Linked DNA regions of Homo sapiens. The protein of the gene in region 3 purifies or fractionates together with the protein of the main gene of each other region. This does not show direct contact. Each region holds a gene or a part of one and is shown on either strand. Other genes may lie near its edges. The genes, in order: RFC4, IMPA2 and FSCN1.

Region 1 (9,919 bases), on a different chromosome or scaffold from region 3:
CTTTGGGAGGCCGAGGCGGGTGGATCACGAGGTCAGGAGTTCGAGACCAGCCTGACCAACGTGGTGAAACCCTGTCTCTACTAAAAATACAAAAATTAGCTGGGCGTGGTTACAGGCACCTGTAGTGCCAGCTACTCAGGAGGCTGAGGCAGGAGGATTGCTTGAACCCGGGATGTGGAGGTTGCAGTGAGCCGAGATCGCACCACTGCACTCCAGCCTGGGCAATAGAGCGAGACACTGTCTCAAAAATAAATAAATAAACAAATAAATAAATAAATTCCACAGGGTAGTTTGCTATAAGGAAACCTACTGGATTAAGGAAAATTAATGGATTAAAACATGAGCAGGTTTTTAAAGTGAGTTTTAATAAAAATTACTAAAAGTAATATATGCTTACTGTAGAGAAATTTGAGAAATCAAAAGAAAAAAGTGGGCACACTGTCAAAGCACTGTTTTTGAAACTTCCCTCTAGTCTTTTACACACACACACACACACACACACACACATTTAAATAAAAAACAAGAGTTGTGATTTAGTTTCATCTCTATTTTTCCTAATCAGCATGGTATCCTAAGCATGTTTATGGACATAAACATTTACATGCATCTATTTTCTATTTTAAAGCCACAATATTAAATATGAAATTCACTGTTAAAGTAAGTTCTTTAAAGACAAACATTATTTCATAAAGGATATAGAAAAAGTTGTATAATCTGGACTGACCTACTCTAAGTAATAATAAACAACTGTTAAGGCTGATTCAGATTGGTTCTATCTGATTGAGTTGTGGAATAATCAAAAAAGTTCTTCTATAATTTTACTGAGAATAAAAAATTGCTGTCAAATAAAATATTAGGCACATAGCAGCTTCTCCCTTTGTCTTTTACATTTTGACATAACTAATAATCCTTACACATTTGGTGATTTCAGTGGCGTCTTTTTTTTTTTGAGACGGAGTCTCGCTCTGTCACCCAGGCTGGAGTGCAGTGGCGTGATCTCGGCTCACTGCAACCTCTGCCTCCCAGGTTCAAGTGATTCTCCTGCCTCAGCCTGCCGAGTAGCTGGGACTACAGGTGCATGCCACCATGCCTGGCAAATTTTTGTATTTTTAGTAGAGATGGGGTTTCACCATGTTGGCCAGGCTGGTTTCGAACTCCTCACCCCAGGTGATCCACCTGCCTCGGCCTCCCAAAGTGCTGGGATTACAGATGTGAGCCACCACACCCAGCCTATTTTCATATGTAGGATTTCAGATATTTCTATCAGTTGTATGTCTGATATTAATTCTGGATAAACTCAAAACAGCCTTTGTTATGTTGGTGCATGTTTCATGTATATCAGACCCAGCCCACTACACATCTTTTAACTCTAGGTAAAGGGCTCCTCTAGAATGGCTGGTTAAGCCAAGATGGTCAATCTAGGAAGAGGAACATAAGAAGGTGACTCACAGGAAGATTTTCTGGTGTACCTGGAATCACACTACATCAACCATCACTTGTGCTCAGGAGACCTGAGGCAAGGAGCTGGACTGGCCACTCCAGAGTCAGAGCCTAGGAAGTCCAGAGCAGGACTCAAGAATGGATGGTGCAAATAGTGCCATCAGAAACAGCAGATTCTATCATGTAGCCACACAGATGTGAACACAATCATTAAGAGGGTGATAAAACTATCAGCACAACTGGACATTAAGTTGGGCCCTCTGGACTCCAAAGTTATAATGGAAAATTTAAAGAAAGTGATGGAAAAAATCATAGGCTCCCCACACTTGAACAAGATTCACAATGAAGGTCACAAAAGACGCAGGCAAGCTGATTTCTTCAGGGGAGTGAGGGAGGAACAAAATGGCTCATGGGATTTTTAAAAATCAGAAATAGAAAACTATCCTACAGAAAACGAAACGCAAATTTTTAGAGGAAAAAAAGCAATATCAGAGAATTTTGGTGTCAAATCTTTAAAAAAAGAAAAACAGACTGATTTCAACGTACCCAAAGAGTTCTCTAGCTGCTGCCAAAATAGTGGATGTTTTTCCAGTTCCAGGTGGTCCGTAAAACAAGAGATTAGGAAGCTGTAGAAATTAAATTTTATTTTTAATAAATGGTATTCTGGCACAAATAGATGAAAAGGAAGATCGAAAAAAATGTCTGTGGAATAGTGCAATGACTTCTCTAATAGGGCACGTAATTTCTAAGTATAAAGTTTTCTTAATATAACTGATATCATAGTACTGACAGATTTAAATCCTGCTTTTTCATATACTACCACTTTTTTCCCCAAGTGTCTTTTTAATCTCTTAAGCTGAACCAATATTTATGCTTGCTCTATAGCTAATCCACTTAGGTGAAATTTTCAAAGCTGGAATGAGAAACCTTTTATTTCTAAAGGGAATCTCAGTTTCCTATCCCACCTCTATGCTCAAGATTAGGTAAGATTTTATATTACACAAAATGTCAGCTGCTTCAAAGGGGAAGCAGACCAAAAGAGTAATGGGATTTGGCCAAAACTGAGGAAAAAGGACTAAAAAAGACATAATTAGGGCTTTGGATGAGCAGAAGTACCAAGAACAGAAATATTAACAAAAAATCCAAAACTAGATATATATTAAGTACTAGGCACTGCTCCACATCATGATTATGCACTCTGTAAGGATGCTTGCATGTATCAGGGAGAATTCATTAGAAGAGGAAAGGATAAAATTAAATCACTAGCTACCTTCTTTTATACCTTGTATCTAGCTAGTTTGGCTCCTATCAAGCAGTCGACTGATCCGTGGTGAAAATTAATAAGTCAACTAAATTCTAATGAGCTCTGTTATGATACTGTGCAATCTTCAGTATGTCCTGTCACATAAGGAAATCAGTGTACACAGGAAACTAGGCATTAGAGTTTGTTTCCACTCTTGCCTAACCCTCCCTCTTCCTGTCCATTCATTCTTCACCTAAATCAGATACCACTCTGCTTGCTACTTAAAACTATTCCACTTAGAAAAACAAAAACAAACCAAAAAACCCTCAGCTTTTTACCATGGCCTAAAGGACTTCCATGATCTGCCTACCACCTCCTTCACCTTCCAGGCTCTAGCTTACAATGGCTTCTAACAGCTTGGCACTTTCTGGCCCGAACATATGTTGCTCCCATGACCTGGAGTCTGATCCTCTTCTTTCTGCCTGGCCAACTCCTAATGCATTACAAATCAGAAACCATTCAGTCTAAAGTAGGTCTCCTCTCCTATTCTCTCATTAGTGTTTGTTGCATTTTGCATTGGTTTATTGTTATTTCACTGTGGGGCTTAATTGTAAAATGCCTGTCTACTTCATTAAAAGACCAAGAACCTTATTTGTTCTATTCACATCTGTATTCTAGCATCTACTACAGTAGTCAATGTTGGCCAAATGAATGAATAAACCAATACATAGACAAATATGTTAATTAGAAGACTATTACTGTTACATTCATAACATATAGCTTACAGAACAAACTATGAGATTCATAACTTAAAAACCTCCCAGGCTTCTTAGTAATTAAGGTCTACAACTATTATTTTGATCTGTGCATCCCTTAACAATGTAACGATTCATCCAGGTTAACTATCAGATACAATAATTTAAATTCTTTGAAACAGGGTAAAATTATTAAACCTTAATTATACACTAGTCTAATATATGTAGTACATTCAAGAACTGTATGTGGAATACCAGTTCTTAAAATCAATTTCTGAAAAAATTATCTTCTTATAATTCTTTAAAACCTTTCAAAATAAATTGAATGAATTGTTTTCCTTTACTCTTTTGAATTAAAAAAACTATTTCACCTCTTTACAAAACTTAGTCTGAAAAGGTGCACAAAATATTAAACTGAAGTTCTTACTTCAGCCTCATAAATTACGTGGCATAAAGTCAAGAACTAGATCTTAGGCTGGGCATGATGGCTCATGCCTGTAATCCCAGCATTTTAGGTGGCCAAAGCGGGCAGGTCACTTGACATGGCTAAACACCATCTCTACTAAAAATACAAAAATGAGCTGTGTGTGGTGGTGCATGCCTGTAGTCCCAGCTACTTGGGAGGCTGAGGTGGGAGGATCACTTGAGCCTGGGAGGCGGAGGTTGCAGTGAGCTGGTATCACGCCACTGCACTCCAGCCTGCGTGACAGAGCAAGACTCTGTCTCAATTACAAAAAAAAACAAAAAAACAAAAGAACTGGATCTTAATCTCACTACATTTGCTGAAGATACTAGTAATTAAATTAGATATTGTCCTGCAATCTGTGTAATTACTATGCAACTGCAATTAAAATGGTATATACTGTTACCAAGATATGCAAGCAGAATATACCAAAAAATAAAATGCTATACTATTATAAAATTAAAAGGTATAAGAGTATTTGTGTTATTTATTTTTTATTACTTATTTATTTATTTATTTTTGAGACCAGAGTCTCACTCTGTCACCCAGGCTGGAGTACAGTGGCACAATCTTGGCTCACTGCAACCCCTCCGCCTCCCAGGTTCAAATGATTCTCCCGCTTTAGCCTCCTGAGTAGCTGGGACTACAGGTGTGTGCCACCACGCCTGGCTACTTTTTCTAATTTTTGGTAGAGATGGGGTTTCACCATGTTGGCCAGGCTGGTCTTGAACTCCTGACCTCAAGTGATCTTCCCATCTCAGCCTCCCGAAACGCTAGGATTACAGGCGTGAGCCACTGTGGCCGGCCAAAAAGGTATAAGAGTATGCGAGTCAAATCAAAACACATACTGGTAAAGAAAAAGATTCTAAATAGTTTTATAAATTTAACTTCTTTCAAAATGTGTACTGTAGTAATATAATTTCAGCAAGGGAATGATGGCAGCAAAACCCAAAAGAACTTCTAATTAAAAGCAGCCAGATTGAGAGGAAGGAAGCAAATCTTGAAACTAAAGCAAAAACCACATCCCACTTCAGCACTTTACTGAGCTGTTAAAGCACTTTGGGCATTCATCATAACACAACTTTAAGTTGCTAATTTTTCACATGGGTTTATCTTATCTCAGAATAATTTACAATGCAAGTTATCCATGGATACTTTATCCCCCAGATCACAGCAGAAGAGAGAGCTATAAGCAGAATTCAAAGCTCGATTTTTTTTTTGTATTATAGGTCAATCCAAATCCTAAAGTTAGTAAGCAATTATACTTTAGAGGAATCTCTGGCTCTTCTTTATAGCACATATTACTACCTATAATTATTTATTGGTTTACTTGTTTATTCTATCTTTCCTTACCAATAAAAACCCATGAAAAAAGGGGCATAGTTTGTCTTGTTCTATGTTTTATGTCTTGTTCTATGTCTATGTTTCATAGTTTGTCTTAATTACTATGACTTTTACTTGAATACTAGGTAACACTGCTATGTAAGATTAAATAGGAGATGCTCAATAAATATTTGAACTAATTATCATTGTACAAATAGTTATCAAGGACCTACTGTACACAGAGCAAGATATTTAACGAGGGCTAGAAGTTATAAAGGAAGAAAGAGGGTGAATAAATTAAGTCTTAAATATCCCAATGACATTAAACACCATTTGCAACTCACATCTGCTCCTTCTAAAGATTTTTTCAGCACTGCAACCACTTCTTCCTGGAAAGCAACTTCATCCACACATTTTGGGCGACTTGCGGGGTGAGAAGGAGGAAAGAGGTTATTTAGTATATTATAGTAGCCACAGAAAACTCTCAAGTGTTCCTTCTACTAAAATACCAATGACCATTCTTAAACATCAGCAATGAAATGAGAAACTTTTTCATAATCGGAAATAGGTGGAAACCCCACTTGTTTTTACCGTAACCAAACACATTCTGAAAGAGTGAAATAATGTTTTACTTCCTTTCTGCATTGCTCGAATCTGTTATACCCACAAAAATTAAAGAAAAAGGATTTTATTTTATATGCTACAAACACTAATTAGAAATTAAAGTGGGGGATTAAGACCATCCTGGCTAACACAGTGAAACCCCGTCTCTACTAAAAACACAAAAAATTAGCCAGGCGTGGTGGTGAGCGCCTGTAGTCCCAGCTACTTGGGAGGCTGAGGCAGGAGAACGGCACGAACCTGGGAGGCAGAGCTTGCAGTGAGCTGAGATCGCACCACTGCACTCCAGCCTGGGTGACAGAGGGAGACTCTGTCTCAAAAAAAAAAAAAAAAAAAAAGAAATTAAAGTGGGGCTGGGTGCGATGGCTCACACTAATCCCAACACTTAGGGAGGCTGAAGCAGGTGGATCACCTGAGGTCAGGAGTTCAAGACCAGCCTGACCAACACGGAGAAACACTGTCTCTACTAAAAATATAAAATTAGCCGGGCATGGTGGTGCATGCCTGTAATGCCAGCTACTCGGGAGGCTGAGGAAGGAGAAGCGCTTGAACCCTGGAGGCAGAGGTTGTGGTGAGCCGAGATCGTATCATTGCACTCCAACCTGGGTCACAAGAGCGAAACTTTATCTCAAAAAAAAAAAAAAAAAAAAAATTAAAGTGAACACCTGCTTAGAAAGCATTATTATTGGCCGGATGCGGTGGCTCACGCCTGTAATCCCAGCACTTTGGGAGGCAGATCACCTGAGATCAGGAGTTTGAGACCAGCCTGGTCAACATGGTGAAACCCCGTCTGTATTAAAAATACAAAAAAAATTAGGTGGGCGTGGTGGCACATGCCTGTAGTCCCATTTGAACCCAGGAGGCAGAAGTTGCAGTGAGCCAAGATCGCACCACTGCACTTCAGCCTGGGCGACAGAGCAAGACTCTGTCTCAAAAGAAAAAAAAAAAGCATTGTTCCACTTTGACAAAATAAGATCATGAATCTTAAGATGAAAAGGGAAAACCATTTAGTAACCTTAGTATAGGTAACTATTTTGGTTAATGTAGTTACATATATACTTAGTATGTGTTAACTGGTTAATGCCAATTTTTTCCATCATCTAACTGCATAAAAAAATGAAGACCTATTCAATTCATTGAGGGCTAACAAAAACAACAAGCTGAACCAATATGAAGTATCATATATAATTTTCATCTTACAACAGTGATTTTTAAGAGAAGCTAGAACAAAGTTACACTTCCAACTCTAAGCTTAGGCTTTGTGCTTAGTTAACTAATCAAAAGTTCTTTGATCCATACTTTTCGATAAATCAGGTTAACACTAGGTAGGAATTATGATTTTTTTTTTTAATGTCTTCTCTTGGGAATCCAGTATATGTTATAAAGCAGGGACTCATATTCAAATACCTGCAGAGATTAAGCAGATAACAAGAGTGAGGAAGGCAGAGTGTGATGCAAGATATAGTAGGGACCATGGCAAATTGAGGAACACACGACCTTTCCAAAAGGAGAAGCAGTACACAAGTCCATATAACTCCTGTCATGTGAGAACCTGCCCCCAGTGTTGCCTGATCTCCTGAGAAGCTGAAAATCCAGACCCTCCTCCACATAATTAAAAAAATCTAGATTTTCATGAGGTTTATTGGTGCCAAACAAAACATATAAGGGGCTGGGCGCAGTGACTCACGCCTGTAATCCCAGCACTTTGGGAGGCCAAGGCAGGCAGATCACCTGAGATCAGGAGTTGAAGACCAGCCTGGTCAACACGATGAAACCTTGTCTCTATTAAAAATACAAAAATTAGCTGAGTGTGGTGGGGCATGTCTGTAATCCCAGCTACTCGGGAGGCTGAGGCAGGAGAATCACTTGAACCTGGGAGGCAGAGGTTGCAGTGAGCTGACATTGCGCCACTGCACTCCAGCCTGGGTGACAAAGTGAGAATCTGTCCCAAAAAAACAAACAAACAAAAAGGCAAGCAAAAAACAAAAACACAAAAAACATATGAGGGCCTTACTCGGCCTATAAGTAATCTGTAAACATTGGTAATTACCGAGGCTACATTCAACCAATAGTTACAATTACTTGTGGTAATATCACTTAGATGACTGACAATTTTATTTATTTATTTGAGACAGAGTCTCGTTCTGTCACCCAGGCTGGAATGCAGTGGTGTGATCTCAGCTCACTGCAATTTCTGCCTCCCAGGTTCAAGTGATTCTCGTGCCTCAGCCTCCCAAGTAGCTGGGATTACAGGTGCCCGCCAACATGCCTGGCTAATTTTTTTTTTTTTTTTTTCCCAGTAAAGAGGGGGTTTCGACATGTTGGCCAGGCTGGTCTGGAACTCCTGGCCTCAAGTGATCCTCCCACCTTGGCCTCCCAAATTGCTGGGATTACATACAGGATTATAGGCATGAGCCACCATGCCAGGTGGTGACTGACAATTTAAATGCTAATTCAAGTGTTGTTTGGACAAAAATGTATGAGCTAACCAAAACTGAATTTCCAGGGCTGGGCGCGGTGGCTCATGCATGTAATCCCAGCACTTTGGGAAGCCAAGGCAGGTGGATCACTTGAGGTCAGGAGTTTGCGATCGACCTGACCAACATGGTGAAACCCCGTCTCTACTAAAAATACAAAAAATTAGCCAGGTGTGGTGGTGGGCACCTGTAATCCCTACTATTTGGGAGGCTGAGGCAGGATAATCACCTGAACCCAGGAGGTGGAGGTTGCAGTGAGTCGAGACCATGCCACTGCACGCCAGCCTGGGCAACAGAGTGAGACTCCGTCTCAAAAATAGTAATAATAATAATAATACTTTCCACCTATTGTAATGAGAAGAAGGAGGAACAGATTACATATTTGGATTTAAGTAGAACTCCTGACCTAGTATTTATAGCCAGTTTACAGAAACTTTTGTTTTCTTCACTTCTGTATCCCAGCCCCTAAAATGGAAGCCTCTGCTTGTAGAGATCTCAGTTTATCTACAAAATAAGGGAGTTAAACTAGATTATTCTCAGGTAACTTTAGTTCCAGGGTTCTATGACTTATATAAGTGGGTGATTTTTTTTCAAAGACAACTTCTAAACAGAACAAAGCATTCCTCCATAAGTTAAAAAAAAAAAAAAGTGATCAGTACTGGTTAGAGAGATAATTTATGAATTATTTTAACAAAGACACAAGTGTTCTTACTATTTTTCCACCCAGGGAACGGGTTTGGCTTTCTTGTTCTCTCCGCTACTTCCCGCACTGGCAGCTACTCCTCGATCCTTGGTCAGCGGGGGTTTAGTACTGATGGATGTACCTTTAAGAAATGCTTGCATGGTACTTCACCCTGGTCAGGTGCAAGACAGAAAAAAAAAGCTTTTATTGAAACTTTTATTGCGAATCAGCACCATAGGAAAGCGGGGGTGGTGGTGGGGAACCATTATGAGAAAGTACAGCCCGAAAATAAACTTAGCCTTGTGCAAAGATGTTACATAATAAAGGACATCACCCCATGACCTAGGACACTCTGAATGCACTGTACTGAGGGCTACAAGAACAGAAAAGTGGTCAAAGTCCCTAACGAACTTAGAATCTATTTCTAGTGCAGGAGTTATAGAACAAAGATCATATGTCACAAAAATGTTTAATGAGTTCCAAATGCATTGATAAATATGATGTTGCTAATGACCAAACCACATGGGCCTCCATGGTTTCTTTCACAGTCATGGGCCTAGCTCTAGCTCAGACCCTGAAATGGACTCTTCGGCAATTAAAGGTGCTCTGCTTGCACCACAAATGAGAACCTTCACTCCTTTCCTTGGGTCAGAACTCAAAGACCTTTTTTTGTTGTTGTTGTTTTTGAGACAGGGTCTCACTCTTTTGCCTAGGATGGAGTGCAGTGGCGGAATCATGGTTCACTGCAGCCTTGACATCCCAGGCTCCTGTCATCTTCCCACTTCAGCCTCCCCAGTAGCTAGGACTACAGGTGCGTGCCACCACCCCCGGCTAATTTTTTAAATTTTTGGTAGAGACAGGGTTTCACCATGTTGCCTAGGCTGGTCTGGAACTCCTGGGCTCAAGTAATCCTCC
Region 2 (9,910 bases), on a different chromosome or scaffold from region 3:
GAAAAACAGACTCACTTACAACTAATGTATAAAAAAATTCATAGAAGGTTCTCAATTTGATGACATCCTAAAAATTTATAAGCCAATTGTTACCAGTAACAAGTTTGAAGCCTAAATTTTCTAAATTATCAGTAATAAATTTCAATAAGCCAAGCAACAGGAAATGCTGAATTTATCTTTCTATTCTCCCCATATAAAGTATTACAAAATCATTATCATTCAAAAGATGCAAACAGTATGAAACCAGAAAAAGGGCAAAAAGTATTACGGAAGTATGAGAAGCAGTGAAAGAATTGTTATTTTTGTGTATTTCGTGATATTTGCAGTATTTCTTAGCACCTTAGAAATTTATAGATGTGATTGTTCTTATTCTAAATAACTTTTATATCTAAGTTTGAATTTGTAATTTTGTATTTTCTCTTTTTTTTTTTTTTTTTTTTTTGAGACAGAGTTTCGCTCTTATCACCCAGGCTGGAGTGCAGTGGTGCAACCTAGGCTCACCACTGCATCCTCCACATCCCAGGTTCTAGGGATTCTCCTGCCTCAGCCTCCTTAGTAGCAGGGATTACAGGCGTGTGCCACCACGCTCGACTGATTTTTGTTGTTTTTTTTTTTTTTTTTTGAGACGGAGTCTTGCTCTGTCGCTCAGGCTGGAGTGCAGTGGCACGATCTCTACTCACTGCAAACTCCGCCTCCCGGGTTCACGCCATTCTCCTGCCTCAGCCTCCTGAGTAGCTGGGACTACAGGCGCCCGCCACCACGCCCGGCTAATTTTTTGTATTTTTTAGTAGAGACGAGGTTTCACCGTGTTAGCCAGGATGGTCTTGATCTCCTGACCTTGTGATCTGCCCACCTCGGCCTCCCAAAGTGCTGGGATTACAGGCGTGAGCCACCGCGCCCGGCCACAGTTTTTGTATTTTTAGTAGAGATGGGGTTTCACTATATTGGTCTCAAATTCCCGACCTCAGGTGATCCACAAGCCTCAGCCTCCCAAAGTGCTGGGATTACAGGCTTCAGCCACCACATCTGGCAAAGTTTGTATTTTCTTAAAGAGGGCCCCCTAAATTGTCTAAGTTTCTGGCCCAACAGAAGCTGGTTCAGCTCCGCGGGGGGATTTGAAAGGCAGAGCTGTCTACAATACTTCTGTTCACACATCACACAAAAGATGACAACCATCCACATCAGTGAATACTGTCATCTGTACTTGGGGTGGGGCTGTGGTCACTCCCTCCCCAAAAGCCCAACAGCCAGGGAGGAGGCTCCCGTCACAGTGTGGGTGGCTGGAACTAGGAGGGCAGGGATGATCCCCACGGTCACGGAAGGAAGAGTGGCACAGAAGCATGGAGGGGGCAGGTGAGGGAATTGGGAGCCTGGGACAGGGAAGCCTGCCAGAACTGGGGCAGAGGGGAAATGGAAGCAGTTTCTCCAGGGCCACCTTGAGCGGAACCAGTCTAAGAGAGAAAGGACAGTGCACCTTTATCTCTTGGAAGGTCTCTCCTTCGGCTCCCTCACCTTTCCGCATCTAGAACACAGACTCCATCTCAGGGGCAGCTGAGAGCAGCGAACAACAGAGTGGTAGAATGCTGGGTGCTAGTGAAGGGTGAGCATCTGGGGGCCCTGCGACTTTGCCAACATGCTCTTCACTAAGGAGAACTCCAAAAGGATCACCACTCACGACCTTTACACCCCGAACCAGGTCATCTGGCTAAAGGATATGTTTTCTCCAGTCAGCCCCCGATTGCATTAGAAGACAATCTGTCCCTCTTTACACAGGTTCCGATGACCTCGTGTGGCTTCTGTTTGTCCCAGCAGCAGACCTTCAGGCCATTCCCTCAGCACTGCCCGGCAGGCAGGAAGCATCAGCATAATGCCTGAGGGGGAGCCCCGGGCGGCCCGGGCTTCCTGACCGGACTCCTAATGGCAGCATCTTTATTGCAACCCTCTCCAGCGTTTAAAAAAAGCTTTTTTTGTTGCTGGCAAGTTGCAAAAACATAAAATATCTCTTAAGTTAAAAGTCATAGGAGCCTTAGAACTGTTCCTGCTCTATTGCAAGCTCTTTATGCACATTTGTTAAATAATAACATAAAATTTTAAAATCTTCTGTTTCTTCAAGGATCTAAATTTGAAAACCACAGAAACTCCTAACTTAGCTCGCCAGGGTTTACACAGCAATGTCTGAATCCTAAGCTGGCTTTTCACTGCCTCAAGGAAGAAAAGTTTTACAGTAGAACCTAAAAGTTCCTAAATATCTGGCTGATGCTTGCTCTGGAAGGAAAGCTGGGAGGCAGGGAAGGATGGAAGGAGAACCCGTGTTCCATGCACACAGCAGCTCTGCTTTCCAGGAAGAACGCTTGCACTGAAGCTACAAGCTTCATCTGCCTTGCAGGAAGGTTTAGGGTCCTCCTTTTCCTACAGGAGGGAAAGGTCAAAGGGTGGAGTTTCGCAACACTCTTAAATTCATTCATTCTTTACGGTCTGAGGCTTGGGTTCTTCAAACTACAAAGGGAAGGAAGGCCCTTCAACAAAAAATGAGTCTACTTAGTATTGCAGATTAATTTTTAAACAGGATTAGAGGATTTGCACCAAGGTAAAGCACTATCCACTTTATGACGACTCACTTCAAATTTAAGATTGATAACAGTCCGATTTCAACATCTAGGGAAACTGGTAGAGCATTTTCGGACTGTCAGACCTCAAAAAAGAAAACAAATGTTTGAATATAAAAGGCCAATCTGCTCTCAGCACACCTCCTGTCTCTAAAATCCCCGAAAACAATCACTTTTTTTTTTTTTTTTTGAGACGGAGTTTTGTTCTTGTTGCCCAGGCTGGTGTGCAATGGCGCGATCTCAGCTCACTGCAACCTTCGCCTCCCAGGTTCAAGTGATTCTCCTGCCTCAGCCTCCCAAATAGCTGGAACTAAGGCACGCGCCACCATGCCCAGCTAATTTTGTATTTTCAGTAGAGACGGGGTTTCACCATGTTGGTCAGGCTGGTCTCGAACTCCTGACCTCAAGTGGTCCACCCGCCTCGGCCTCCCAAAGTGCTGGGATTACAGGCGTGAGCCACTGCGCCCGGCCCACAATCACATCCTAAGAGACAAACATGGAGTAAGCCATCTTACAGTCCTGGGAGAACCAACACTCGCTTGCCTACCACTACCGTCGGTGTGTCAGGCACTGCTAAAGGTACTGAGGAAAGTGGAAGGAACAATCACAAAAATGAAAAAGAGAAGAGAGGAACTGCACTCCATTTTAAACTCTGCTCGCTGGTTTTCGGTAGCTCTGCGGCTCGGTTTTCATCCTTCCGGGCAGTGTAACAAGTTCCTCCTGAACTCTGAGTCCGTGGCCGTCGCGGAGCTGAGCCACTTTCAGGGTGTGGGTCAGAGTAAGTTTGGGTTGAGGATGCTGCAGCCAGGACAATCAAACGGCAGCCCAGCCAGATCCCCACGCGGCTGGGGCTTAGCCCCGGGCTTCCTACCGCGAGCTGAATCCGTTCATAGGTCCTTAAAAATCAACAGCCCCGTACGCTACCCCTGGAGAGATTTCTACATTCTGACCACTCACTCAAACGCAAAGGTCACGTTAGCCGCTGAACTCCAAAGCAGAGGGGCTCGCCGCCAGGGCTCCGGGAGTTGGAGAAGGGCGCGGGAGGTGTGTCCAGGACACCAGCACAAAGGCTCCTTTCACCGCTCCGCGCCCCGCGCCCTCGGGTGCGGACCCTGGGCGCCCGCCGGCTGCGCGCCAGGACCCCGCCACTCCAGGCGGCTCCCAAGGCCCACGCGCTTCTGCTCCGCCCGGACTTCCGAGCCCAGCCGTGGCGCTCACCTGTCCTGCCCGCAGCGCCAGCTGCACGGCCGCCTGGAAGCACTCCTCCCAGGGGCCGGCCGCCAGCGCCGCCTGGTCCTCGCCGCTCGGCTTCATCGCGGCCTCGCCGGGCCCCTCCACCTCCAGCCCCCCTCGGCGGGACTCCGGCTCCCACCGGATCCCGCCGTCCCGCCGCCAGGCTCCACACTCCCTGTGCCTGCTCCCGCAGCTCTGTGCCTAGTCCGCCGCCCGTCCCACACCTGCGCTGGCGGGAAGGGCAGCCAGCGGGCCGCGGGAGCCGTGCGTCCTGCTTTCCGCTCCCCACCCTCCGCCCCGCCCCGTGCCGAGCCCAGCCCAGCTCCCCGCCCCGCTCCCCGCCCAGCTCCCTGCTCCCGCGTCCGGCCCCGCTCTGCATTCCCCACCTCGCCCCTCGCAGAGCTCGGCCCCGCCCATTCCCCCCTCTTCCCCGCCCCTTGACGCTCCCGGCCCCGCCCCGCACCCGTTGCTGCTCCTGGCCTCTTCCCGCGCCGTGCCCGGCCCCGTCCTGCACCGCCCCTCCCGCTCCCGGCTGCGCCCCGTACCTGGCCCCGCCCCTCTGGGCTAGCCCTGAACACAAATCAGTGCCGAGCCTGGTCCCTCTCCGCTCCGCGCTTTACCTCCAGCCCCGCCCCTGTGGTGCAGCATCACCCTCCCCGCTCGAGGCGGACCCAACCCTGCTCCGCCGTGCCCCGTCCCGCAGCGCGCAGAGCGGGCTCCAACTCCTCTGAGCCTCGAGCCCCGCCTCCCTCAAGTTGAGCCGGGCCCGTGTCCAAGCCCCGCCCCACCGCCGCGCGCTGAGACAGGCCCCACCCCCGGCTCGTGCAGAACTCCGTACTGTTCTGGGTCAAGCGCGCGGAGGGCGGCTTGGGCCACCGCAGAGCTGGGAGGGAGGAGCTAGGAGCGGCTGTTTTGGGGGCCCGGGGCAGCTACTGTCTGGGTGGGACCGTGCGGTGCCGGCCCAGCCCCGGAGGTGCCGGGGAGCGTCCCGTCCGCGGATCCCCGCGCACGTGGTGCCGGGCGTCCCTTCATGGTCTGTGGCCGGATTCGGGCTCGAGCGCCAGGGGCGGCTGGGCCAGCACCTTCCGACCGGTCGCTTTTTGTTCGCGGAGGCCGCTGGGCGCTAGGCGTCGTTCTCGGCCTCGCAGGAGCTCAGACCGCCGAGCGCACAAGGCCGCAGTGTTCCTGCAAGCGGCCGCCCCGCGCGGCAAGTTTGGTCGCAAACAAGCTCTCCCTCCGCTAACCCCAAACACTGCGAGGACAGCGGCTGGACTTTATAAACTCTTCACACCCAAAACTCGAATTTGGAGACGGAACTGTGATTGCGATGAGCCTCTGTAGTGAGGAATGACCTTTCCAACCTTGGATTCTCTTGCTGGCCCATGTAAACATAAATAGGAGGCATTTCCCGAAAGAGTGGCCGCGTGGTTTCCAAGGTTAATTTCATAAGCCGCTCTGCCTGCCCGTTTTATAAAAGATGCTAACCCACGTAAAATTATTCTGGAGTGCCACTTCGGAGTCTGGGAGAATAATGGGAGTTTGTACAAGAACCTTGATGGGGCATTTTTTACACACTTAACCTAATAATGAAATTAAACGTTTTTAGTTTTTGAGTACTTTATGCTGAAACACCTTGTGGAGAAACTTTAAGTGTACCGTATAAGAGACAAAAAGTACAAACAGGAGGAATTACAAACAGGAAATACAAACACGCAGATATGGGTACAACTTTAGGGACTCTGGCCTCACCCAGAGCCCTAATCCTACGGCTCAGAAAACTAGACCAATTGCCCTGCCTCCCACCACGCCAGTTTGGGGCAGCTAAGGGCGCACTCCCCTCCATCTTTTTTGGGTTCTTATGTTTTTATGATGTTTAAGACAGAGGCCGGGTGCGGTGGCTCACGCCTGTAATCCCAGCACTTTGGGATGCCGAGGCGGGCGGATCACGAGGTCAAGAGATCGAGACCAGCCTGACCAACAAGGTGAAACCCCGTCTCTACTAAAAATACAAAAATTAGTTGGGCGTGATGGCAGGTGTCTGTAATCCCAGCTACTCGGGAGGCTGAGACAGGAGAATCCCTTGAACCTGGGAGGCTGAGGTTGCAGTGAGCCGAGATGGCGCCACTGCGCTCCAGCCTGGCGACAGAGTGAGACTCCGTCGCAAAAAAAAAAAAAAAAAAAAAAAGACAGCAGGACTTCAGAATGCACTTAAGATTGTGCTGTGAATGCGTTACTTTAAAAGAAATGCATTCTCTTGTTGATTTTCATGACAGGTTTTCATTAGCGGTCACTTCCAACACCAAGCAAACAAAGAAGTGGCAAAATGTCTCTTCCGCCTCTTCCCAGTTCTCCTTTCTGAACACCTCTGCCTGTGCTCCTGGTACTGTCACCCCATCTGGAAGCTCAGTTATATCTTTAGATAAACTTTCATGATAGATCCCAGCTTATCTAAACAACTGGAAAAAGAGTTAACTTTCTTTCCCAAATGACATATCTTAAGGCAGCGTAGTGTGGTTTTTAACAGCATGAGGCTTTGAAGCAGCCAGGTTTCCTAAATTAAAATATTGGCCTCTCTTCTTCCTTACTGTGTGGATTTGAGCAAGTTAAAAATAACCGGTTTTGCCTGTTTCTTCAACTGTAAAGTGGTCTTTGTAACCATTGTATGGGTTAATGTACTTGTGCTTGGAACGTATGTGTTTGCTATTATTATTAAAGACTGGTCATTTATGCACCAGTGTGGGTAGCCTCAAGCAATCAGCATACCGCTTGGCACCCAATAGGTGTTTAATAAATATCTGTTCGGCCAGGTGTGGTGGCTCACGCCTGTAATCCCAGAACTTTGGGAGGCCGAGGTAGGAGGATCATCTGAGGTCAGGAGTTCAAGACCAGCCTGGGCAACATGGTGAAACCTATCCTCTACCAAAAATAAACAAAATTAGGCAGGCATCGTGGCATGTGCCTGTAGTCCCAGCTGCTCAGGAGTCTGAGGCAGGAGAATTGCTTGAACCCTGGAGGCCAAGGTAGCAGTGAGCCAAGATTGCACCACTGCACTCCAGCCTGGGTGACACGAGCAAGACTCTATCTCAAAAAATAAAAATAGGCCAAGCGCGGTGGCTCACGCCTGTAATCCCAACACTTTAGGAGACAAAGGTAGGCGGATCACGACGTCAGGAGATGGAGACCATCCTGGCTAACATGGTGAAACCCTGTCTGTACTAAAAATACAAAAAAATGGCCGGGCGCGGTGGTTCACGCCTGTAATCCCAGCACTTTGGGAGGCCGAGGTGGGCGGATCACAAGGTCAGGAGATCGAGACCATCCTGGCTAACACTGTGAAACCCCGTCTCTACTAAAAATACAAAAATTAGCCGGGCGTGGCAGCGTGTGCCTGTAGTCCCCAGCTGTGGGGAGGCTGACTCAGGAGAATGGCGTGAACCCGGGAGGCAGAGCTTGCAGTGAGCCGAGATTGCGCCACTGCACTCCAGCCTGGGCTACAGAGCGAGACTACGTATCAAAAAAAAAAAAAAAAAAAAAAAAAAGAAAGAAAGAAAGAAAAGAAAATGTAGAGGAAAGTGGCCGGGCGCGGTGGCTCAAGCCTGTAATCCCCGCACTTTGGGAGGCCGAGGCGGGCGGATCCCGAGGTCAGGAGATCAGGACCATCCTGGCTAACACAGTGAAACCCCGTCTCTACTAAAAATACAAAAAATTAGCTGGGCGTGGTGGAGGGCGCCTGTAGTCCCAGCTACTCGGGAGGCTGAGGCAGGAGAATGGCGTGAACCCCGGAGGCTGAGCTTGCAGTGAGCCGAGATTGCGCCACTGCACTGCAGCCTGGGTGACTGAGCGAGACTCCTTCTCGGAAAAAAAAAAAGAAGAAAGAAAAGAAAATTTAGAGGAAAGAGTGCATTATTTTTGCAATTAAAAGTTGATTTCAAACATTAAGCAAAAATTGTTACGATTTTACTGTAACGGGCCCAAATCCTGGTCAAAGAATCGTGTATCTACAAATGTGATCAATATCACCTGCATCTCAGTAGAAATGCCCCCAGTCAAATGGCAAAGAGCATCAACGCTTTTCCCATTCTAAAATATTCCTTGAAGGGCCCTCAATCTGTATCATTGACCACCCAGATTGTCTACTCAGAGACCCAAAATATTAGACAATTATTTGTACAATTCAATCCACATAAATAATGTTTTGTTACATAGATAATGGAGAAGCTATTTTGGCTTGGATAATTTGATAATTTTCCAGAGCCGCCCATTTTCCTTTGTGTGTATAAAAATCCAGATTTAGTTTATTAAGTTCTGTCTTATATTTATTATAAGCCCCCTTACTACAATTTTTTTTCTTCATGTTTGGTCATCAGTAATAAGAGAACAGCTGGCCACCATCTGCTGCCTAAGAAAAAAGACATATATTTATTATATCCTTAGGAAGACTCCTAAATTACCCAGCTAATTTTCATTTTTTTTTTGGAAGAGATGGGGTGTCATCCTTGTTACTCAGGCTGGTCTCGAACTCCTGGGCTCAAAAGATCCCCACCCCCTCCCCACCCCGCCTTGGCCTCCGAGAGTGCTAGGATTACAGAAGTCAGCCACCACACCCGGCAGAAATCAGCTTTTTCTAATGAATAATGCGTATCACTCATGCGTCAATGATGACTCTCTGTGGAGATGTAAAATATTCTTCCCCAGCTGGCCTCCACCACAGTCTGCACACTGTCTCCTTCAGAGGCCCTGGAAGCCACATGAACTTTCCTTAAGCCCCTAGCGTACTGCACTCTGCCTTGAAAAACTGTATCTTAACTACCCCTCCCCACCCCCCACCCTAGGGCACAGTCCTTCTGGTGAGGCTCTGGTCACCAGAAGGCCACATGCACAGTGCCTGGGTCAGGGCCCAAGAAGCCAGGGCAGTGGCAGTGAGAAGGTGAAAGGACAGTCAGGACAGACTTTATGTCCTTATTAATCTGGGAGTTCCCTCCCCTCATGTTCTTTATGGAAGAAAGCAGAGTCTAAATAAACAAAATGTCAGGTAGTGTTCTTTTCTTCCATCCACTTCTCCAGCTTCCCCAGGTTACCTTGAAATCTGATCTTATCTCGGCCGGTGAGGTGGCTCATGCCTGTTATCCCAGCACTTTGGGAGACTGAGCCTTGTGGATCACGAGGTCAGCAGTTCGAGACCAGCCTGGCCAACATGGTGAAATCCTGTGTCTATAAAAATGCAAAACTTAGCCAGGCATGGTGGCAGGCGCCTGTAACCCCAGGTACTCCAGAGGCTGAGTCAGGAGCATCGCTTGAACCCGGGAGGCGGAGGTTGCAGTGAACTGAGACTGTGCCATTGTACTCCAGCCTGGGCAACAGAGCAAGACTCCGTCTCAAAAAAAAAAAAAAGTCTAATCTTATTCTCCAGGGCCAAGACATGCTGACTTGGACATTTGAGGAGCTTTTTTGTTTTAGCTCATCTAAATCCCTAGAAGTTGGTTGAGAATAATGTCTGACCATCCTTAAACCGAAGTGTGGAATATTGACATTAGAAGCTGAATTGTACCACCCCACTCCCTGCTCCCAAATTTATATACTGAATTTTGAATCTCAGAATGTGCCTATATTTGGAGATAGAGCCTTTAAAGAGGTAGTTAAGTTAAATTGGGTTCATCAGGGTTGGCCCTAATCTGACTGGTGTTCTTATGAAAAGAGGGAATTTGGACACAGAAAAACACACCAGGAGTGCATGCACACAGTGGGAAGGCCACGTGAGGACCAGTGAGAAGGTGGCCATTGCAAGCCAAGGAGAAAGGCCTCAGAAGACACCAACCCTGCTGACTAATCATTTTTTTTTAATTTTAGATGCAAAGGGTACATGTGCAGGTTTGTTAAAAGGGTATACTGTGTGATGCTGATGTTTGGGCTTCTAATGATCCTGTAACGCAAGCAGCAAACATAATACCTAATAGGTAGTTTTTCAACACTTGACCCCCTCCACCCTCCTTCCTTTTGGAATCCCCAGTGTCTGTTGTTCCTATCTTTGTGTCCGTGAGTACCCAATATTTAGCTCCCACTTATAAGTGAGA
Region 3 (9,919 bases):
CGCCCTTCAGGTAGCGCCCGCCCACCTTGATGGCCACCTTGTTATAGTCGCAGAACTCGAAGAAGAAGTCCACAGGAGTGTCGCCGCTGCTGGTGACCGCGGAGTCACTGCCCACCGTCCAGTATTTGCCTGTGGAGTCTGGGGAGGGGACTTTATCAAGTGGGGCCCAAAGCCTGGCTCCCCACCCCTACCCTGGGCAGCGGAGGGTGGGCACGGGTGTTCCCAAGGGTGACGCCCCACCCTCCAGTCCCGGCTCCGGAATGAGCCAGGGTCCCTATGGCCCGCACGTCCTCCTGTCCATGATGGACACATGAACAAGGGTCCTAGAACGTGTTCTGCTCGGCCGCAGTGGCTCACGCCTGTAATCCCAGCACTTTGGGAGGCTGAGGTGGGCGGATCACTTGAGGTCAGGAGTTCGAGCCAGCCTTGCCAACATAGTGAAGCTCCGTCTCTACTAAAAATACAAAACAATTAGCCGGGTGTGGTGGCTCACACCTATAAACCCAGCACTGTGGGAGGCTGAGGTGGGCGGATCACTTGAGGCCACGAATTCAAGACCAGCCTGGACAACATGGTGAAACCCGTCTCTATGAAAAATACAAAAAAATTAGCCAGGCATGGTGGCTCCCACACATAGTCCCAGCTACTCGGGAGGCTGAGGCAGGAGAATCGCTTGAACCCAGGAGGCAGAGGTTGCAGAGAGCCGAGATAACGCCACTGCACTCCAGACTGGGTCTCAAAATAAATAAATAATAAATTTTAAAAATATAAAAATTAGCCAGGCGTGGTGGTGCACACCTGTAATCCCAGCTACTTGGGAGGCTGAGGCAGGAGAATCACTTGAACCCAGGAGGCAGAGGTTGCAGTGAGCCGAGATAACGCCACTGCAGTCCAGCCAGGGTGAGGGAGTGAGTCTCAAAAAAACAAACAAAAAAACCATGTTCTGAATCCTAACAGGCACCTCTGGATTGTTGGGGGTCCTCCTGGGAAGGGGCTCCAGTCCCATAACCGAGGCGCGTCCTCCCCTGCACACCCTTTCCAGAACCTCCCCACCCCTGCTCTCCTCTCCTTCCCGGCTCTCCCCTCCCCTGCTCTCCTCCCTCCCCTTCCCTGCTCTCCTTCCCCTCCCTGCTCTCCCCTCCACACACCTCTCTGTCAGGTGGGCAAGGTAAGTCCCCCCAACCACACAGACAAGAGGGAAAGGGGCTGCTTGCATCCCAGAGCCCCTGGTGGCCATCAGACACCTGTCCCTTTAGGGCCTGGAATGGCCCTGAGCCAAGCCAGGGTCCAGTGTGGATGCAGAGGGCGCTCCCCGCAGCACTGACCCCAGCCCCGACCGAGGGGTTCCCTGCCCAGCAGCTGCCCACAGGAGAACCTGCCTTTGATGTTGTAGGCGCCATCGTTGAACTCCAGCTGGAAGACGTCATAGCTGGAGCGGTTGGCGTCCAGGGTGCCCGTGACCTTGCGGCAGCCGATGAAGCCATGCTCCCCGCGGAACACGATGATGGGGCGGTTGATGAGCTTCATGAGGAAGAGCTCTGAGTCCCCTGTCCCAGAAAGAGGGGAGTCAGTGAGCCTCCTGGCAGGGAGTGGGGTGGAGGCTGGGGTGACCAGAGAGGGAGGGCCAGGAGCTGGGGTCACACAGCAGTCCCCAGGGTAGGACAGTGCGGGGCCAGTCCGGGGGGATGCCCAGCACAGAGCAGGCCTTGGCTGGGGCTACCAAGTGACCACGGCATGGCCAGACCCTCCAGGACTCCAGGACGGCTCCAGGGAACTGGGGCTTTAGTGTTACCTGCTGTCTCCACCGAGGCGGCCAGCTGCCCATTCTTCTTGGAGGTCACAAACTTGCCATTGGACGCCCTCAGTGTGATGCGCCGGTCACGCCACTCGATGTCAAAGTAGCAGCTGGCATTCCTGGGGGATGGCGGGACAGGGTCAGGCGGGGTAGCCCAGGCAAGGTGGTGGGGGCGGTGACAGGTGGGAGCGAGGCACTCACTTGCTGGAGGCGGTGGACTGCACGCCCCCGGTGGCCGTCAGCGTCCAGTACTTGCCCGTGTGGGTACGGAAGGCACACTTTTTGGTGTCGCGGTCGATCTCCAGCTGGAAGGTCTCCTGGTCGGTCTCCTCGTCCTGATTGGCAGACAGGTCCATACCTGCAGAGAGGAGGCCTTGGGCTGGTACTGGGGCCCCACGCCCCCTAGTTCTGGCAGACCATAGCCCTGAGCTCACAGAACTACACACGCAAGGTAACACCACGGGGTGGGGTGGGCGGCCGAGTCCCCACAGTGGCACACATGAGAAGCAGCAGAGAGCACCCAGGAACGCAGGCAGGGCCGGTCAGAGGCCAAGGCAAGCTACATCTGTTCCCACATGACTTTCCCCAGTTAGAGAAATAATAGGGGCCAGGGACAGGGGCTCATGCCTGTGATCGCAACACTTTGGGAGGCCAAGGCAGGAGGATTGTTTGAGTCTAGGAGTTTGAGACCAGCCTGGGCAACATAGCAAGACCCCCACCCCACCCCCGTCTCTACAAATTACTTTTTTTAATTAGCTGGGAGTGGTGGTGCAAACCTGTGGTCCCAGCTACTTGGGAGGCTGAGGCAGGAGGATCGCTGAGGCAGGAGGCTGAGGCTGCAGTGAGCCGTGATTGCACCACTGCACTCCAGCCTGGGTGACACAGTGAGACCCTGTCTCAAAAAAAACAAAAAGAATCAAGAAACCAACTGCACAAAAGACATTCTTGAGCCAATCAGGAGGGTCTTAACGTGGCCCAGAATTAGATGTTAAGCATTGATTACTGTTGATCACGTTGTGGTTACATAAGAAAATGGCCTCGTTTTTTTAGAAACACAGATGGAAGTATTTTGGGATGAAATGCCCTGATGTCAGGGATTTGCTTCAAATACAACCAAAAATGGTATAGAAAAGGACAAATGGGGCTGCAGCACAGCGGAACAGCGCATCTTGGGGGGCCGTGTCTGGGGGTTCATGCTATTGTTCCTGCTTCTATGTAAAAATTAAAATAAAACACGATGGTACATGTTCCTTTCCTTTAGAAAACTTATAAAAGGGCCGGGTGCGGTGGCTCATATCTCCTGCAATCCCAGCCTTTTGGGAGGCCAAGTCAGGAGGATCATTTGAGACCAGGAGTTCAAGACCAGCCTGGACAACTTAGCAAGACCCTACTTAAAAAAAAAAAAAAGGGGCCAGGCACAGTGGCTCACACCTGTAATCCCAGCAGTTTGGGAGGCCAAGGCAGGCAGATCACCCGAGGTCGGGAGTTTGAGACCAGCCTGACCAACATGGAGTCACCCCGTCTCTACTAAAAATACAAAATTGCCTGAGGCTGAGGCAGGAGAATCACTTCAACCTGGGAGGCGGAGATGGCAGTGAGCCGAGATCACTCCAGCCTGGGCAACAAGAATGAAATTCCGCCTCAAAAAAAAAAAAAAAATTTTTTTTTAAGCCCTGTCTCTAAAACAAAAAAAAGGAAACTATGAAGTCCTACACGTCCCCTTCCCACCCCACTGCAGAACACCCCTGTGTTGGCAAATACATCTCTTTCTTTTTGATTCAGGGTCTTGCTCTGTTGCCCAGGTTGGAGTGCAGTGGCACAATCATAGCTCACTGTAGCCTCGACTTCCTGGGCTCAAGTGATCCTCCCACCTCAGCCTCCCAAATAGCTGAGACTACAGGCACACACCACCACATCAAGTTAATTTTTTTTTCTATTTGGTACAGACAGGGTCTGGCTATGTTGCCTAGGATGGTCTTGAACTCCCGGCCTCACATGATCCTCCTAACTCAGCCTCCCAAAGTGCTGAGGTTACAGACACAAGCCACCATGTGCCCAGCCAGTGAACCCACAACTTTCTAGCTGTTTTTTTCTTATACATAAGAAGCATGCGGGTTGCCACGGCGGCTCACGCCTGTAATCCCAGCACTTTGGGAAGCTGAGGCGGGTGGATCACCTGAGGTCATGAGTTCAAGACCAGCCTTGCCAACATGGTGAAACCCCGCCTCTACTAAAAATACAAAAATTAGCTGGGCATGGTGGGGCATGCCTGTAATCCCAGCTACTTGGAAGTCTGAGGCAGGAGAATCACTTGAACCTGGGAGGCAGAGGTTGCAGTGAGCTGAGATTGCACCACTGCACTCCAGCCTGGGCGACAGAGCAAGAATCCATCTCAAAAAAAAAAAAAAAAAAAAAAAGGAAGAAAGAAAGAAACATGCACAGATGTCCTCTGTCTCTGGATTTGCATACTGTTTTCTGTATGGCATCTTTACATGATTCCATGTCCCTAAAAAGTAGAATGGGACTGGCCGGGCACAGTGGCCCACACCTGTAATCCCAGCACTTTGGGAGGCCGAGGCGGGCGGATCATGAGGTCAGGAGTTTGAGACCAGCCTGGCCAACATGGTGAAACCTCATCTCTACTAAAAATACAAAAAAAAGGACCAGGCAAGGTGGCTCATGCCTGTAATCCCAGCACTTTGGGAGGCCGAGGCAGGCGGATCACGAGGTCAGGAGATCGAGATCATCCTAACACGGTGAAACCCGTCTCTATTAATAATACAAAAAAAAAAAATTAGCCGGGCACGGTGGCGGGCGCCTGTAGTCCCTGCTACTCGGGAGGCTGAGGCAGGAGAATGGCGTGAACCCGGGAGGTGGAGCTTGCAGTGAGCCAAGATCGCGCCACTGCACTCCAGCCTGGGCGACAATGCGAGACTCTGTCTCAAAAAAAAAAAAATTAGCTGGGGGTGGTGCCGGGCGCCTGTAATCCCAGCTGCTCGGGAGGCTGACGCAGGAGAATTGCTTGAACCCAGGAGGCGGAGGCTGCAGTGAGCTGAGATCCGCCACTGCACTCCAGCCTGGGCGACAGAGCAAGACTCTGTCTCAGAATAGGACCCCAGGGATCTCTATCTTCGGGAAACTTAAGGTGGCTTTCGGGTTTTGCTCCCCTAAGCTATAGCAAAGCTGCTATTCTTTTTTTGAGAAAGAGAGTCTCGCTGTGTCTCCCGGGCTGGAGTGCAATGGCACGATCTCGCCTCACTGAAACCTCTGCCTCCTGGGTTCAAGTGATTCTCCTGCCTCAGCCTCCTGAGTAGCTGGGATTACAGGCACCCGCCACTATGCCCGGCTAATTTTTTTGTATTTTTAGTAGAGACGGAGTTTCATTATGTTGGCCAGGCCGGTCTCAAACTCCTGACCTCAGGTGATCCACCCACCTCAGCCTCCCAAAGTGCTGGGATTACAGGTATGAGCCACTGCGCCCAGCCCACAATTGCTATTCATTATAACTACATTGCTTTGCATATCCACATGGATTCCTCCAGCTAAAACCTGGAGGTGGGATGTTTGGCTCCAGCAGCACAAATTCACATTCCCCACGCGCTCTGGATTCTAAGAACTGCAGCAGCAGAGGCGTCTGCCGGGCTCTGTATGGGTGCCTGGCTCAGAGCTGGAGAGTGTCTTCGTTTGGGCACCTTGATGCTGCAGGGACCTCAGCGGTGGGTGGCAGGCAGCACCCACAGGAGAGGGAGGCTGGTGGGTGGTAGAGCCCACACCCAGAGGACACATCCTCAATTCCATTTTTTTTTTAGAGATAGGGTCTTGCTCTGTTGCCCAGGCTGGAGTGCAAGTGGCCCAAGCATGGCTCTCTACAGCCTCCACCTCCTGGGCTCAAAGGATCCTCTTGCCTCAGTCTCCCCAGTAGGTGGGACCACAGGCACTCACCACTACACCTGGCTAACTTTAACATTATTTTGTAGAGATGGGGGTGGTCTCGCTATGTTGCCCAAACTCCAGGACTCAAGCAGTCCTCCCACCTTTGCCTCCCAAAGTGCTGGGATTACAGGGGTAAGCCACCACGCCCGGCCTCCCCATCCTGTTCCATCCTGACCCAACCATGCAGCCCCACATCTGCTCCACAGGTGGGGATCTTCATCCTACTTCACAAAGAGGGAGACTAAGGCCGGTGGTGGCATGTCCTTGCCTAAGGTCACACAGCAAGAGAAAGTAAGGGTCTGGCTGGCTCTCTGGACCGGAGGTGGGTGGCCCTCTTGCCACGCCCTTTCCCTGCCCCACCCTCTTGTCTATGGGTTCCTGGCCCCGCCCCTTCTTGGAACCCCTTGGGCTCCACCCCCCAGGTTCCCTGGGGCCCCTTAAGCCGGTAGCCCACCCTCTGCCCTCCGACGAGCATCCACCGCACTGGGTGGGCTGGCTCAGCCACCACACCCCAGCCAAGCACGGGAGGAGGATAAGGTGAGCAGGGGCTGGGTCCCAGGGTGCCGGGACCATCCTAAGGCCACACCCCAGGGAACACGAGGGCTGGGGCCTCTGCTCACTCAGCCCTCCACCAGCCAAGAGGCCCTGCAAAGGTCTGGCCCGCCCCACCCCCACTGCACAGAAGCCGCAGGGCTGCAGGGAGCCGTCAGGCCAGCCACACCCGCACAGCTGCCCTCACCGCCCCCTCATTCTGCTCAGAAGGGCCTGCATGTCTACCTACAGGCAGGGGCCGCACCCTGGGCCCTGGCCTGTGCCGGCCACAGAGCACCACCTGTCCAATGCGCTGGGGCTCCGCTGAAGCCCCGCTGATCGGAGGGAAGTTAGGGACCAGGTAAGAGGACAGCCTCCTGCAGGCCCACCCCAGCAGCAGAAAGGATGGAGGGAGAGGTTCTAGGTCCACCCCAGCAGCAGGAAAAAACAGAGGGCATCAGGGGCTCCAGGTTCCCCAGAAAGAGGGGCAAAAGGAGAAGGGGAGACAGTGGAACAGAAACCACATTAGCACAGCCTCGTCCTAGGGTTTACAGGGCTCGTCCTCACACAGCCTTGCAAATAAGCAGGGCGCTTACCAGCCCGCCTGGAACAAATGCAGGAAGCCGGGAGGCTCCTTCTCAATGAGACTTCCAATGGCTGCGCAGGGCTTAACTGGCGGCAGCCACGGGGCCACGTGTGAATGCACGTCGGCCTTAATCCTCCTGGCAACTCCATGAAATTTACACTAACCTCATCCCCCAAGCCAGAGAAGAAAGGGAGCTTCCCAGCCATTCCTGGGCCCAGGGCCACACAACTGCCGCCATCTGTACCACGACTCAGTCCCCATCAGCCTGTTGCGTTCAATCCTGGAACTGGTTTGATGCAAAGGTTTAGGCCAGCCAGTGAGGCACCCACCGCGGGGGGCCAGGCACCCTTGGATGAGTGCCTTCCCTGCAACCTTCCTCAGTTTCCCCACCTGTCAAAAGGGCCCAGCCTCTCCGCTCCGCCAGGATGTTGAAAGGATTTAGGGGCCTGGTGCCACGTAGACATCAGGCCACACCCCAGCAGGGAGGGATAGGGGAAAGGGGTGTCGTCCCCCCAGTAGAGCAGGGCCCCTCCTGGCTCCAAGGCCCTCGCTTGGCCTTGGAGTCTCTAATTAGAGCTGTGTTACTATGGGAACAGTGTTTTCTTCAGGATTTTTCTTTTCATCAACAGAGGCACAGAAATCCTGAGTCACAGGCCCACAGAAGCCCCCGGGAGCCAGGAGATTAAGAGTCTCCTGTGCCGGGCCCACGGGTACCTCTCCCTCCTCCTTCCAGAGAGGTCTAGCCCTGCCTGTCCTCCCCTCACAGTGGCCTTCCCTGTTTCCAGCCTTTGAGCCATCCTCTCTTTTTTTTTTTTTTAACTTTTTTCTTTTAATTATTTTAATTACAGTTTTTTGTTTGTTTGTTTTGGTTGTTTTTTTTGTTTTGTTTTGTTTTTTGAGATGGAGTTTCACTCTTGTTGCCCAGGCTGGAGTGCAATGGTGCGATCTCGGCTCACTGCAACTTCCGCCTCCCGGGTTCAAGGGATTCTCCTGCCTCAGCCTCCAGAGTAGCTGGGATTACAGGCATGCGCCACCACGCCCGGCTAATTTTTGTGTTTTTAGTAGAGATGGGGTTTCTCCATGTTGGTCAGACTGGTCTCAAACTCCCGACCTCCAGGTGATCCACCCACCTTGGACTCCCAAAGTGCTGGCATTACAGGCGTGAGCCACCGCACCAGGCCAAAAAAAATTTTTTTAAGACAGGGTCTCGTTCTGTTGCCCAGGCTGGAGTGCAGTGGCACGATCTCGGCTCACTGCAGCCTCAAACTCCCCGGCTCAAGTGATCCTCCCATCTAAGCCTCCTGAGTAGCTGGGACGACAGGCGTGCATCACCATGCCTGGCTAATTTTTTGTATTTTTTGTAGACAGAGGTTTTGCCATGTTTTCCAGGCTGGCCTTGAACTCCTGGGCTGAAGCCATCTTCCCTCCTTGGCCGAAGCCATCTTCCCTCCTTGGCCTCCCAAAGTGCTTGGATTACAGGCGAGAGCCAGTGTGCCTGGCCTTCTGAACCATTCTGTCTGTGGTGGCTCAGAGGGGCACCCCCTGGTTGCCTCACACCCTCCAGTCCCCATCACCACCCCCAGGCCTTAACGGTCCCCAGATGCCCCTGGCTTGTTCAAAACAGGCACTCCTTCCATCTCATTTAGGGGAGGGGGCCTGGAATGTTCTATGGCTTCACCTTACCACCCCGGTTTCCAGTCGATTCCTGCAACTACTTGGCCATTTCAAATGCCTCTGCATCCTTATACAAGCCATTCCCTGGGCTCAGAATGCCCTGCGCCTCGTGGGGAGAACTCTTACACATCCTGCAAAGCCCAGCTTGACGAGCCCTTCCTCAGTCAGCCCTCCTCAGAGTGGCTGGGAGAGGGCATGTCCCAAGCCAGCAGGGAGGACAGGTCCTATCCCTGGCATGGATCCCCAGATGCAAGCACAGGCTGGCGGGAGAGGACTCCCAGATGTGAGAGATGTGAGAGAAGACAGGAAGTGTGGTGAGGCATGGCCCAGGGTCGGGGCCAGGGTAGGTGTGGATCCTGGGGAGCAGGGAGGAGCCTGGGGCATGGCGGGAGGACAAAGGAGCACTCACTCAGCTGACCCAGCCTCTGGTGTGAAGGGCTGAAAGCCCCTGCCCAGGGCAGCTCTGGGCCAGCCCAAGGAGGCCTGGAATGCACACTTTACAGATGGGGAAACTGAGGCTGAAGAGCAGGGCGCAGCGTTTTTCAAAGGGGAGCACCCTGCCCCCACCGGGCCCGCCCGTGCAGGCCTGCAGAGATGATTCACATCCCCCCTGCCAGCTAAGTCCGGATCCTCCCCTTCCTGGCTGGCGTTCCCCAGCATGTGTGTCGGAAGCAGACGCCTCCCCCTTGCCACGCAGGCCCGTCCAAAATGGCCTCTGCAGACACGCCCCCCACGCCCACCCCTGCAGACTCCAGTTCCCAAAAGCCCCCCGGGAGTTGGCTGACATAGAAACGAGATAAGGACCCCAAGATCTGAGGCCAGAGGAGCCCCAACCTCGGCCCCCAAGTACCCCCACCCCCGCGCCGTCCCACATCCCTTTCAACTCCAAGCTGAGCCATCACCACCACCTCTCCTGGCTGCAATTTCTGGTTCCTCCCACCCTATCAGCCTGAATCACACACCAGACGCCCCCAGCAAGCTTCTCAGGAGAGGGGAGTTATCTGCCCAGGCTCGCCAAAAACACCCTCAGGCTCTCTGCAACTTCCTGGCCCCCAGGGCCAAGGCCACCTACTTCTGCGACTTCTTCCCCACGGGAGGCTGTGGCTGCAACCCCAAGGCAAGGACCATAGCCCTGCACTAAGCTCTCACCCAAGGTCCCGTGGCCCAGACCTCACAAGCTTCCTCCCAGCCACACTGGGCTTTCTCTGTACCTTCCTGCCATAAGACCTTTGCACAGGAGACACCCACAGCCTACAACGCTGGTCCACACAGCACCCCCCCCATACCTGCCACCTTCTATTCATCCTTCAGGCCAGCTCAAATGTCCTGCTCAGAAAGGACTCAGCCATCTAATAACCTGTACCCGCTGCCTTTTCCTTGACACTTCGTAATGTCCCCAA

The links.
Region 1: the proteins of FSCN1 (region 3) and RFC4 purify together in Homo sapiens (affinity purification with mass spectrometry; 2 studies listed by BioGRID and IntAct, with this or other methods). This does not show direct contact.
Region 2: the proteins of FSCN1 (region 3) and IMPA2 purify together in Homo sapiens (affinity purification with mass spectrometry; 2 studies listed by BioGRID, with this or other methods). This does not show direct contact.

The regions. Positions count from the first base shown.
Region 1 is NC_000003.12:186,795,549-186,805,467, forward strand, and holds part of RFC4 (replication factor C subunit 4), read right to left. Parts: intron 9,177-9,919; 5' UTR 9,166-9,176; coding exon 9,035-9,165; intron 5,648-9,034; coding exon 5,569-5,647; intron 2,067-5,568; coding exon 1,987-2,066; intron 1-1,986. UniProt on the Homo sapiens protein: Subunit of the replication factor C (RFC) complex which acts during elongation of primed DNA templates by DNA polymerases delta and epsilon, and is necessary for ATP-dependent loading of proliferating cell nuclear antigen (PCNA) onto primed DNA.
Region 2 is NC_000018.10:11,975,680-11,985,589, reverse strand, and holds the start of IMPA2 (inositol monophosphatase 2), read right to left. Parts: upstream 4,084-9,910; 5' UTR 3,921-4,083; coding exon 3,825-3,920; intron 1-3,824. UniProt on the Homo sapiens protein: Phosphatase that can use myo-inositol monophosphates, myo-inositol 1,4-diphosphate, scyllo-inositol-1,4-diphosphate, glucose-1-phosphate, beta-glycerophosphate and 2'-AMP as substrates in vitro.
Region 3 is NC_000007.14:5,595,491-5,605,409, reverse strand, and holds part of FSCN1 (fascin), read right to left. Parts: intron 2,154-9,919; coding exon 1,997-2,153; intron 1,915-1,996; coding exon 1,793-1,914; intron 1,548-1,792; coding exon 1,380-1,547; intron 139-1,379; coding exon 1-138. UniProt on the Homo sapiens protein: Actin-binding protein that contains 2 major actin binding sites. Organizes filamentous actin into parallel bundles. Plays a role in the organization of actin filament bundles and the formation of microspikes, membrane ruffles, and stress fibers.